3 linked regions of the Homo sapiens genome follow. The protein of the gene in region 3 purifies or fractionates together with the protein of the main gene of each other region. This does not show direct contact. Each region holds a gene or a part of one and is shown on either strand. Other genes may lie near its edges.

Region 1 (3,650 bases), on a different chromosome or scaffold from region 3:
GATTTATTTGGAGGGTGTGGAGTAACCATGTGGAAGGCCCAGCTGCATGTGCAAAACTCACATTGTAGTTGTGGAAGAAGGTCAGGTAGCGGATCACGCCCACCCACACCAGCAGCGTCGAGGTGCCCAGGAGGATGCTGCAGACGTCGTAGCTCGCCAAGTTCTGCGGGTGGGAGCTGCGTCAACCTATCTGGCCCAGCCCTTCCTTTGGGGGGCCTGGGGGAGGATATGGCCCCGGATAGGCACTGACAGCAGGGATGGGACCTGGGGCCCAGGGTGTTGGCAGGACGCACCTTGGCCTCGATGCCGATCTTCATGATGGTGCCCGAGATGGTGAGCACATCGCTGGTGACGAGCAGGATGTACCAGCCATTGACAAATTCCAGCCGCTCCCACAGGCTGATGACCCGTCCCCGCTGCCGCCACATGAACCCCACAAACTCCTGCAGAAGGCAGGCGGGGTGAGGGCCTGACCAGGCACAGGACCCTCAAAGCCCTGGCTTTTATCGCCCCAGGGCCAGGCGGGGAGGACACCAGCACACATGACGCAGAAGCCTCACGTTCTGCAGCAGGAAGCCTCGAAGGAGTGAGCGGGCGCAGAGGAGGAAGGACAGGGAGCAGGTGAGGATGACCACCACGTCAAACAGGAGCCGGAAGCTGTTGTCTCCTGCGGGGAGGGCAGAGCGGGTAGGGCCAAGGATGGCATGGAGCCTTGGGAGGCTAGCATTGGTGCCAGGCCAGGCTGGAGACCTAGGGGGCTGCACGGCTGGTTTTGGTTGGTCAGTGGGCTCAGGGCTTGCTTGGGGTGAGTCAAGAACCCCGGTCAGTGCTGGTCTGGGGCTTGGGGGATCTCAGCACAGGACGGGGTCCCTGGTCTGTGCTGATCTGAGGCTCAGCGGATTCCTGGGGAGGTCACGGCCCCCAGGCAGCGCTGATCTGGGGCTTGGGGAATCCCAGGACAGGCCAGGGCCCCTGGTCAGTGCTGGTCTGGGGCTCAGGGGCTCACCGTGCTGGAAGACACTGGGGTGCTTACACTCCTGGATGTGGGCCTGGGTCTCCAGGCTGATGGGGATCCGCCCACTGTGTGCTTTGTTGTCAAACGTGATCTGTGGGGGCCAGTTGGGGGCAGAGTAAACCTTGGCAGCCCCAAGCCCCAAGGTCCACATGACAGGTGGCCTGACAGACCCCGGGCTCCCTCCCTCATCACCCGCACGCTTGCCCTTGGCCAGTGCTCCCAAGACACTCCCTGACCAGGTCCCTGCCCTGGAACTCAGGAGCCCTGTGGGTTCCCGGGGGGCCTCACCAGGACGCTGAAGGTATAGCAGTCCGGGATCTCATTATTGATGAGGCTCTGGAGGTTAATGGTCTTCAGCCGGAAGTGGATGGTGACATTGACCAGCCTAGGCAGGAGGCTCGGGTGAGGGTCAGGGGCGTCTTCGGGTCCCTTCCGGCCCCAAGTGCCAGCGTCCCCTGCCACGTGCTGACTCTGCAGCTGGCAGGGGAAGTGCTCACCCAGCAGGCACCAGCGCGGGCGGGGGGGCCCTGTCCCCACCTTAGGGAAGTAGTTGCTGGGGTGAGAGTGCCTAGTGTGCTGCCTCCCCCACCCTGGGCCCCCCTCGAGTGAGCAGGCAGTACTTGTGGAATTTGAGCGTGAGGTTCTTGTAACTGGAGCTGCTTTCCAAGAGGGTGAGATCGTCGCTGGGGGGCGGAGGGGGCCGCTCGGGGGGATCCACCTGGATGCAGTCTAAGGACAGGGAGTCAGGGAAGGGCCTCAGGGGGCCGGGGAGGCCAGGCTGGTCTCCCCAGAGTCCCCAGTGGCCTTCTTCCCTGTGCTTCCCCAGGGTTGGGTCATTCCTACAGGCCTGGCACTCTCTGGGCCTGCGGATGTTTTACTGAATGAGCCATATTAAAATATAACATCTGGTGCTTTCTACGTGGCAAGAGTCACACTCACACTAAGCATACTTGTTTTTTTTTTTTTTTTTTTTTTTTGAGACAGGGTCTCACTCTGTCACCCAGGGTGGAGTGCAGCAGCGTGGTCATAGCTTACTGCAGCCTCAACCTCCCGGACTCAAGCGATCCTCCTGCCTCAGCCTCCTGAGTAGCTGGGACCACAGGGGCACGCCACCACGCCCAGCTAATTTGTTTGTGCGTAGAGACAAGGTCTTCCTACGTGGCCCAGGCTGGTCTCAAACTTCTGGCCTCAAGCAATCCTTCCTCCTCAGCCTCCCAAAGTGCTGGTATTATAGGCGTGAGCCACCGTGCCCAGCCACAGCTGTTGATTTTAATCCCAGCAGCTCAGGCTCCCAACAGTGAAGCCTCGTCCTGCCCACTCACCAGTAACCACCATCGGATCAATGTCAAATGTGTCGTTGGCCGGGTCCACGTGGCCTCGGTGGTAGTACCGCTGGCAGAGAGCAAGCCCTGAGCCATTGGTCCAAGGGTCACCCCCACCACGGACATACGCATACCGGCCCAGTGACACGTCAGGCAACGCCAGGTACTGTGGGCAGAGAAGGGGAGGGCCTGTGAGTCCGGCCCGCTCTCTGCAGCCCACCCACCTGCACCTGCCCGCCCACCAGCACCTGCCCGCCCAACTGCACCTGCCCGCCCACCTGCACCTGCCTGCCCACCAGCACCTGCCCGCCCACCAGCACCTGGTCCACAGCATGGAAGATGGCCTGGTACAGCTGCTCCCGCGTGTAGGCTGCGAAGGTGTCATCCGCTCCGTCCGAGTAGCCCAGCAGGAAGAGGTGTCGGAAGGCGATGGTGTTCTCTTCCCGGAATGTCACAGCCAGCTGATTACTGAGCCCAAACAGGATGAGCTGGGGAGAGGGTAGTAGAGGTTGGCATGGCTAGGATGGGGGTTGGGGTGTATCTCCCTCAGGGCACAGGCCCTGGAAGAGGACAGGGAGGGCCCTGCAGATGTCCACTGGGGTGGGGCAGGGCCCTGCTAACTTGGGCCACAAACACGGATTTCACTTGTGCATTTCTTTGCTTTGATTAATTTCACCCCACCTCCTGGCATAAGCTCCATGCCACGCCCACCACTGTGTCCTCCCCCGTACAACACAGGGTGGGGACTCATCTATCTCACTGCAGGGACTAACGTTCATTAAATGTTTACTGGATGTCCGATTCTGTGTTAAACCCAAACTTTCAGGGTAAGTACCATGACTGGGTCCCTTTTCTTTTCTTTTTTGAGACAGAGTCTCACTCTGTTGCCCAAGTTGGAGTGCCATGGTATGATCTCAGCTCACTACAACCTCCACCCCCTGGGTTCAAGCAATTCTCCTGTCTCAGCCTCCTGAGTAGCTGAGTTACAGGTACCTGCCACCAAACCCAGCTAATTTTTGTATTTTTAGTAGAGACGGGGTTTTGCAATGTTGGCCAGGCTGGTCTCAAACTCCTGGCCTCAAATGATCCACCCAACTCAGCCTCCCAAAGTGCTGGCATTACAGGCATGAGCCACCATGCCTGGACAATTGGGTCCCTTTTCAGAGGGAAAATTAGAGGCATGGTGACATGCTAAAGTCAGCCCAAAACATGAAGTAAGCACTTAGGGCAGTGGCTGGGTCTGATTCATCTTGGGGTTCCCAGAGCCCAGCACAGGGTCTGGCATGGGGGAGGGAGAACTATCTGTGCAGCCA
Region 2 (3,683 bases), on a different chromosome or scaffold from region 3:
ACATAGCAAAATGTGGAATAGGAAGTATCGTGGTTATTTCTTATATACACCTAATAAAGCAATATTAAAGCCTGTATACAGATCAATCAGTGATCAATCATCCCTAGAGCACTGGTCACCACTTTGTCCTGCACCTGTCTGAGTAACCTCGGGCACAGTACAAGCCCCAAGTTGGTGGCCAGGTGCAGGGAACAGGCACAGTCCTCACTCCTGACAGACACCTCCATCTTCTCCAGCAGCATCCCACATCTTTTAACGCTAAATTATCAATCCCCAAATTTTAAAAGGTTGAGGCAGGTGCAGTGGCTCACGTCTGTAATCCTAGCACTTAGGGAGGCTGAGGTGGGCAGATTATCTGAGGTCAGGAGTTCGAAATCAGCCTGGCCAACATGGCTAAACCCCATCTCTACTAAAAATGCAAAAATCAGCCAGGCATGGTGATGTGTGATAGCAATCCCAGCTACTCAGGAGGCTGAGGCAGGAGAATCGCTTGAACCCGGGAGGTGGAGGTTGCAGTGAGCCCAGATCGCACCACTGCACTCCAGCCTGGGGGAAGGAGTGAGACTGTCTCCAAAAAAAAATTAAATAAAAAGGGGGAATCAATTTTCCTCCACAGAAGAAATAATTTTATTCCATTTGAGAAAAGTAAAGGATACATTCTTTGTCTGACAAAAGTGATTTTGTCATGGAACTCCAAGGCCTGCCTGGTGAAGTGACAGTGACAGATGTTAGAGGAACCTGTGGCCCTCAGTGACACAGAGAGCACAGACATTTGGCTGGGAAAGCACTTGCATGATCGAAACATTTCCTATTGCAGAGATTCAGAAGTTCTTTTTATCCTGAAGATCATTCTGGTTTCTAATTTAAGATTGAAGATGATTTAATTTGCTAATGGAACCCAGGCCAGCTGTTTTTTCACACAACTGAAAGGAGAGAAATCGGAAATCACTCTTACATGGTGAGACCTTTGATACTTTTCTCCAGGCCTCATGAGTCAAAGGCCATCACTGTCCCTCCACCGAGCATCTGGGCAGTGTCTGCCTCCTGTCCAGAACTCTTGGAGGCCGGGCCAGCAGCCATCTCAGCCCCTCCCACCCCTCCATGCCACAGGGCAGCACCAACTCCCAAGTAGTAGCAGGCTCTGTCCCGCAGTCCCCAGCCCATCCACAGCACCACTGCTGCCTTGGCAGCGAGAAGGGCTGGGAAAACTGCAAGCCCCTTCCTCCCTCAGGTGTTCTGATCGCCTTTTACAACAAGGGTCGCCTCTAGCCCCTCCATCAAGTCTTTGGTCCTGGAACATTGTGAGTTACATTGCATATAGTGTTATTCTAAGGGCATCACCCAGAGAAAAAGGACGAAGCGGCCTTCTCACTCTGGAGCTCCGAAGAACTGAGCCAGGGAAGCAGCAGGGGGAGCGCCCTGTGTTAGGTGTGCACAGGGGCTGCGGCTCTCAGCACAGGCCTGACGACCGCCCAGCTTCAGACGCCAACCATAGTGAGGCCTCAGTGACAGGCACTCATCCTCCCCTCCAAACACTGGCCAGCAAGAGCTCCTTCCAAGGAGGACAAGTGGGAGAATCCAGAGAGCCACGCTGTGGGACGGCTCCTGCGGAACTGGGCGCAGCCTGTGTGTGCTTGGCCTGGGAGATGCCTGTGTGTCACACTAAGCCACTCTAAAAGGACAGGAGTAGGACTGCCCTTTATTCAACAGTGCCGCAGTTTGGGTCCAGGGCTTTTTCAACTCTAGAAATGGCATTGCCTCAAAAAGGCTAACTGAGGGGGCCAATATGAAGTAGGCTTGTTACAACTGTAACTGTCACTCTCTAAAACAGGGTGGCATGCCAAGCCTATTCCACAGCACCTTTGCCAGGCAGACAGAGAACACTCCTTCTCAGAGCCAATCCCCGCTCCACAGGAAGTGAGGATACAGCAAGAGCCAGGCAAGCCGCGCAGATGCCACTGGCTCTCACGCTGCAGGTCCCTCGACAGAGGCCATAAATCTTTCCCTCCGAGCACGTCCAACTTGGGGGTCCTCACAGTGCTGCTATGAACTGGCCAGTCCACTAAATGTCACAGGGAAATGGCTCTCTTGCTGCACCTCTCTGGATAGGGGCCGAGGTCGCTGCTGTTTTAGATCCTGCCAGCTTAGACTGGGTAAGGCCATGCCCAGGGCCAGTGCAATTGGGAATACTGCAGTGACTTCTGAAAAGTGTCCATCCTTCCCCGGAAGCAAAATGCAGCACCCCTAGGACATCGCCAGTGACAGCTGAGGCACATCAACAGCCAATTGCTAAAGCTGGGCCTAGTCTTTAAAAACAAAGCTTAGCTCCCCGCTTGGGTGGTCTGACTGAACTGGCTGTCTGCAGAAGTGACGGCTGGCACTGCAACTGCTAGTCTGGGGGCTTGCCCTGGAACTGTACCCATTGCCATCGAGCCATTGGGGATGACAGTTGTGTTCAAGCTATTAGGGGTCTCACCACTAGCTTGTATTTTAAAGTAGACCAAATAAAAGACAGGCAAGACAATACCAATCAGCAGCATGATGAAAACAGCATTCCACCACTGAATGCCACAATCTGCACCATCCATAGGCGTCTTCGGAGGTGCCGGGAGCAGTGGCTGATGGGAGGTGTCCATGCAGTAACTTTCATGTAGAAAGATTTCTGACTGCACTGCACGCTCAATATCCTGGTCAATCCCCTTAAAGAAGCCCATCAGTTGGCCGGCCTGGGCACCGGTGCCCGCGCCTGCTCTGTCTGCCTCTGGCAGTTCCACGGTCACTGTGGTCTCGGAAGACGGGCTCAGAAGGGGTTTCAGTTCTTTGTGGGTCTCCATCAGGATCCCATGGTTTCTCACTGGAATCTTAACAGATTTCAAAGCATATAAGTCTTGTTCTCTGATGAAGTTGTTGACTTTCTTGATATCTGCAACCTAGGAAGGCACGAAGATAAACATCATAAAATATGCGGAGCTCCTTAAAAATAACTTTCCAAAAAGTGGCTCTTAATCTTTCTGGGTGATGATTCAAGCCCACTTCACTGACGAATCTGATGAAGACTGGAAAACTGCAGCTGTACACAAAGTTAGTTTAGGCTGAAATTTTGTTTTTTTGGCTTTCACTCAACCTCAATATATAGTTTAGTAATCAGATATTCCTAAAGATTTACAGGTTTGAACAATTTAAGATCAGTTTTGAAAAACAGATCTTTCTTAAACTGTTTAAAGTGTGACTGCAACAAATCGCTTTGGGCGAAACCACCATGGCACTGAAAGGAATGTTGCAGCCTTTTCCACCTTTCACTTTTGAGGCAATAGTGCCCCCATCTGCCTGCCTTCCCCCTCATGCCAGAACTCAGTGGCTGCCAGATGTTAGCATTCACCAAACACACAGCCTCAGCCAGCTCTGCAGACACACTCAAAATCCAGTTTACCTGTAATAAAGTTGACAGATATGCCCTCGGCATTTTCTTTCCCAGAAACACTGTGGGGCATGTAAACTTATTAAATAAAAGTGACTTACAGTTACTGTACTTAACTGTCAGGAAAAAGGAATAATGCTGTGAGTTTTATCAAGTAACAAAGTTCATGACAAACTCCTCTCATAATCAAACACGAAGATTTAAGAAGCAGGGAGAATGTAAGTCAAAGGGTAACCCCTCCCTCAAACTAATGTTTGAAAACTTT
Region 3 (3,650 bases):
AGTCAGTGTTTTTCTGAAAATAATTGCCACCTTGTTGCTAATTAAACATGATGGATTCGGGGTCCTGGTTTGCCATCTGGGCCATATGTCTCAGAACATCCTTTTTTGTGATGATGCCAAGAAGTCTCCTGGAGAAGAAACAAAATAGAGAAAAGAGGTCAGCCTTGAAACGACGACTCATCCCTCTCCCTAAACCCCAGTGCCTTTTCCATGTGGACACAGAGACAGACAACATTTCCCAGCCTCCCTTGTGGTTAGGCAGAGCCAATGGAGGGAGCACTGGCCAATGCCTGTGGGTGGAAGTGACAGATGCTGCTCCCAGGTCTCCTGTGCATTTCCCCCCACTCTCTCTTCTCATCTGGCAGCCAGAGGCACAGGAGCCAGTGAAGGGCTCTGAGGATTGACTTAGGAGCCACCAGATTCAAACACCTAGGTCCAGAGCCCACCTGCAATCCACAGTGGATGTAACATGTGAGAAAAATAAACCTTTATTGCATTAGGCCACAGAGATTGCAAGCTTGTTTATTACGGCAGTAAACCTATGATGACTACTATATCCTCTTAAATTTCAAGACTATAATCAATTTTAAAAGGGTTTATGAAAGGCATTGTCAAAACTTGACCACACCACAGGAATGCCAAGTGTAAGGTATTTTAAGTATAAGAAATTTTAAGTACAAGATAAAAAGTGATTCTATTTGTAATTCTTACTGGGAGGATAAAGTTGACATTTATCTCTGACTATATACGTAAATTGCCTTCTCTTCCAAAATTCCATTGCTTTCAACTTACAAAAAGAATGCCACTTCCCAGAGTCCATTGTATGGGACCACCAAGACTGTATATCACACAGTGCCAAGGAGCACTGCTCACAAACACTGCAGTAGAAATTGTGCCCTCTGGATTATACAGTGCACATTTGCACAACCATTCATAGCAAGCCTTGTTTCATTATTTTACTAAATGACCACCTGCAGGAACACATCATGTCCCTTGGGTAAAATGAAAGGTCTGAGAGAAGGAGAAGTGAACAACTTCTTTGGAAAAAAAGAAGCTCCATTCCCACATAAGTTTGCAAAACACTACTCACTGTATCTCCACTGTACCCCCCAAAAAAGGGGTATGCAGAAGCAAACTCTGGTAGTCTTGCATTAAAATACTTTATAGCTATTAAAATAATGGGTTTCTACTCTGTGTAATATGATAATATACAAAAGAAATCAGAAAACCTAACTGTAATATACTGTCATTTATTTAATTAAGGCAAAATTAGTCAAATTTATCTCTTAGTGAATATGAAGAAGGGATGTAAGTATTCTAAGCAGTATTCAAATCAGTTACACCTGGTGAAATAGACACTGATTATTCAAACTGTCAGGCCAGAATTCTGACTTTTTTGGCTCTGACAACACTGGACCTTAAACAGTCTTGGAAAAGGTATCCGTTTCTTGTGTTGGTTTCCCTATGTATCACACTGAGAGAGACAGCAAATAAGACCCCTTCCCCTCCATCTCATGGCAACATCTTTAGGAGAGAGGAAAATAGTGAAAGAGCATGCTAAGCAAACAGAATAATGACAATATGAATTACAAAAACATTAAAAGAATATATCATGACCCTACAGGGATTGTTTTTCTTAAATGGGGAGGAATACTTGATAAACGTAGGAAGCAGGACAGAATTTGATAATTAATACTTTGCAACCCCCAATGTAATAGTTAGCTTAGGCAATAATTGTCAATGGATACCAAAATCACTGGGCGAATGGTTGCTGGAAAACAGAAAATTCACATGGTCTCAAAGTACTTTCCTACAGATTATGAACAAAGAGAAAAATGTCACTTTACAATGGAGGGTTCTGGCCATCACCACCTCATCCGAGCAATGGAGCTTATCATCAACAAAGTCAGAAAAGCAGACTCCATAGCGTTACCTATGTTGGAATGCTGCCAAAAACGACTTATGCCAAACTGAATCATGAGGAAGTAATCAGACCCAGAATGTGAGACTACTGGTCTGGACTCTTCAAAGGAAATCTTTGCAAGTAACAAACCTGCACATGTATCTCCTGTGTCTAAAATAAAATTTGGAATTATGTTTAAAAATCTCTCATTAAAAAAACAACAACAAGGCAGGAAACTGTTCTAGACAAGAGACTAAAAAGGCAAAAGAATGCAATGCACAAACCTTGATGGAATTCTGAGTTGATATTTGAATGAATATCAACTGGATATTGGATGATATATTGAGTTACTGTTAATTTTACATCATCATGGTTTGGTAGTTATGTAAAGAAAACGTCTTAGAAGACGTCTGCTTCATTCATAATTGCCAAAACCTGGAAGCAACCAACATTTTCTTTAGTAGGTGACTGGATAAACTGAACCATGGCATATCCAGACAATGGATATTCTTCAGCAATAAAAACAAAAGTGCTATCAAGTCATGAAAAGACGTGGAGAAAAATCAAAATGTGTATTGCTGAGTGAAAGAAGCCAGTCTGAAAAGGCTACATACTGAATGATTCCAACTACATAATATGCAACATTCTGGAAAAGGCTAAACTATGGAGACAGTAAAAAGATCAGTGGTTGTCAGGGTTTGGTGGGTGGAAGAGAGGGATAAATAGGCAGAGCACAGGGGATTTTTAGGGCAGTGAAACTACTCTGTATCATCCTGTAATGGTGGACACATGATATTATATATTTGTCAAAATCCACAGAAATATATGACACAGAGTACACTCTAAAGTAAACTATGGATGTTAGTTAATAATAATGTATTGATATTGGTTCATCAATTACAACAAATACAACAGTAATGCAAGATATTGACAATAGGGGAAACTGAGGGGAGTGAAGGGGATATATGAGAACTCTGCATATTTTGCTCAATTGTTCTGTAAGCCTAAATGTTGTTATAATCCTGAAACAAGAGCTACCTAAAGGAAACAAATGTTAGCACTCTTCTTTGCGGTGAGATGCTGAGTTCTCCTGGGAAAACCCATCTGTGAGTATGAACACAGTTGACAGATTCAAGGCCCAACAAGGGCTCTGGTCTCCTCACACAGGAAGGTTGCTGGGTCCAGCTGGCAGAGCCTGAAACCATTTCTTTCCATCCTGATTTGTTTTAGCTGCTTCGGGCTCAACTGTCATAATGAGGGCCCATTGCAATCAATCAACCAGAGATACACATTTTCTCAAGGGCACTGTTACCCAATACTTCGCCAAATCACCCTGCTTCTACGGTTGCAAAAGCTTTAGTGGGCCCCGGTCTCATTAGAGTTGCCCTTTTGCTTTGGCAGCCATGTATTGCTGCTGAGAAGAGCAGTCCAGGCCTCCAGACTTGAGGCATGTCAGAGCCAGAGGCCCACATAAGAAATAAAGGTTTCCCAATCAACAAAGTGAAGAGACAACCCACAGAATGGGAGAAAACACTAGCAAACTACCCATCTGACAAGGGATTAATAAGCAGAATATATAAGGAGCTCAAACAACTCTATAGGGAAAAATCTAATAATCTGATCAAAAAAACGGGCAAAATATTTGGATAGACATTTCTCAAAAGAAGACATACAAATAGCAAACAGGTGTATGAAAAGAGTACAGCTGGATAGTTTGTAACACAAAGGGTAAATGCTTGAGGGGGTG

What was found.
Region 1: the proteins of CLCN4 (region 3) and MCOLN1 fractionate together in Homo sapiens (co-fractionation; one large-scale study listed by BioGRID). This does not show direct contact.
Region 2: the proteins of CLCN4 (region 3) and LYSMD4 fractionate together in Homo sapiens (co-fractionation; one large-scale study listed by BioGRID). This does not show direct contact.

What each region holds. Positions count from the first base shown.
Region 1 is NC_000019.10:7,525,614-7,529,263, reverse strand, and holds part of MCOLN1 (mucolipin-1), read right to left. Parts: intron 2,826-3,650; coding exon 2,658-2,825; intron 2,504-2,657; coding exon 2,338-2,503; intron 1,745-2,337; coding exon 1,636-1,744; intron 1,401-1,635; coding exon 1,304-1,400; intron 1,107-1,303; coding exon 1,007-1,106; intron 668-1,006; coding exon 561-667; intron 444-560; coding exon 294-443; intron 164-293; coding exon 62-163; intron 1-61. UniProt on the Homo sapiens protein: Nonselective cation channel probably playing a role in the regulation of membrane trafficking events and of metal homeostasis. Acts as a Ca(2+)-permeable cation channel with inwardly rectifying activity.
Region 2 is NC_000015.10:99,726,802-99,730,484, forward strand, and holds the end of LYSMD4 (lysM and putative peptidoglycan-binding domain-containing protein 4), read right to left. Parts: intron 2,931-3,683; coding exon 2,322-2,930; 3' UTR 604-2,321; downstream 1-603.
Region 3 is NC_000023.11:10,229,972-10,233,621, reverse strand, and holds part of CLCN4 (H(+)/Cl(-) exchange transporter 4), read right to left. Parts: intron 129-3,650; coding exon 38-128; 3' UTR 1-37. UniProt on the Homo sapiens protein: Strongly outwardly rectifying, electrogenic H(+)/Cl(-)exchanger which mediates the exchange of chloride ions against protons.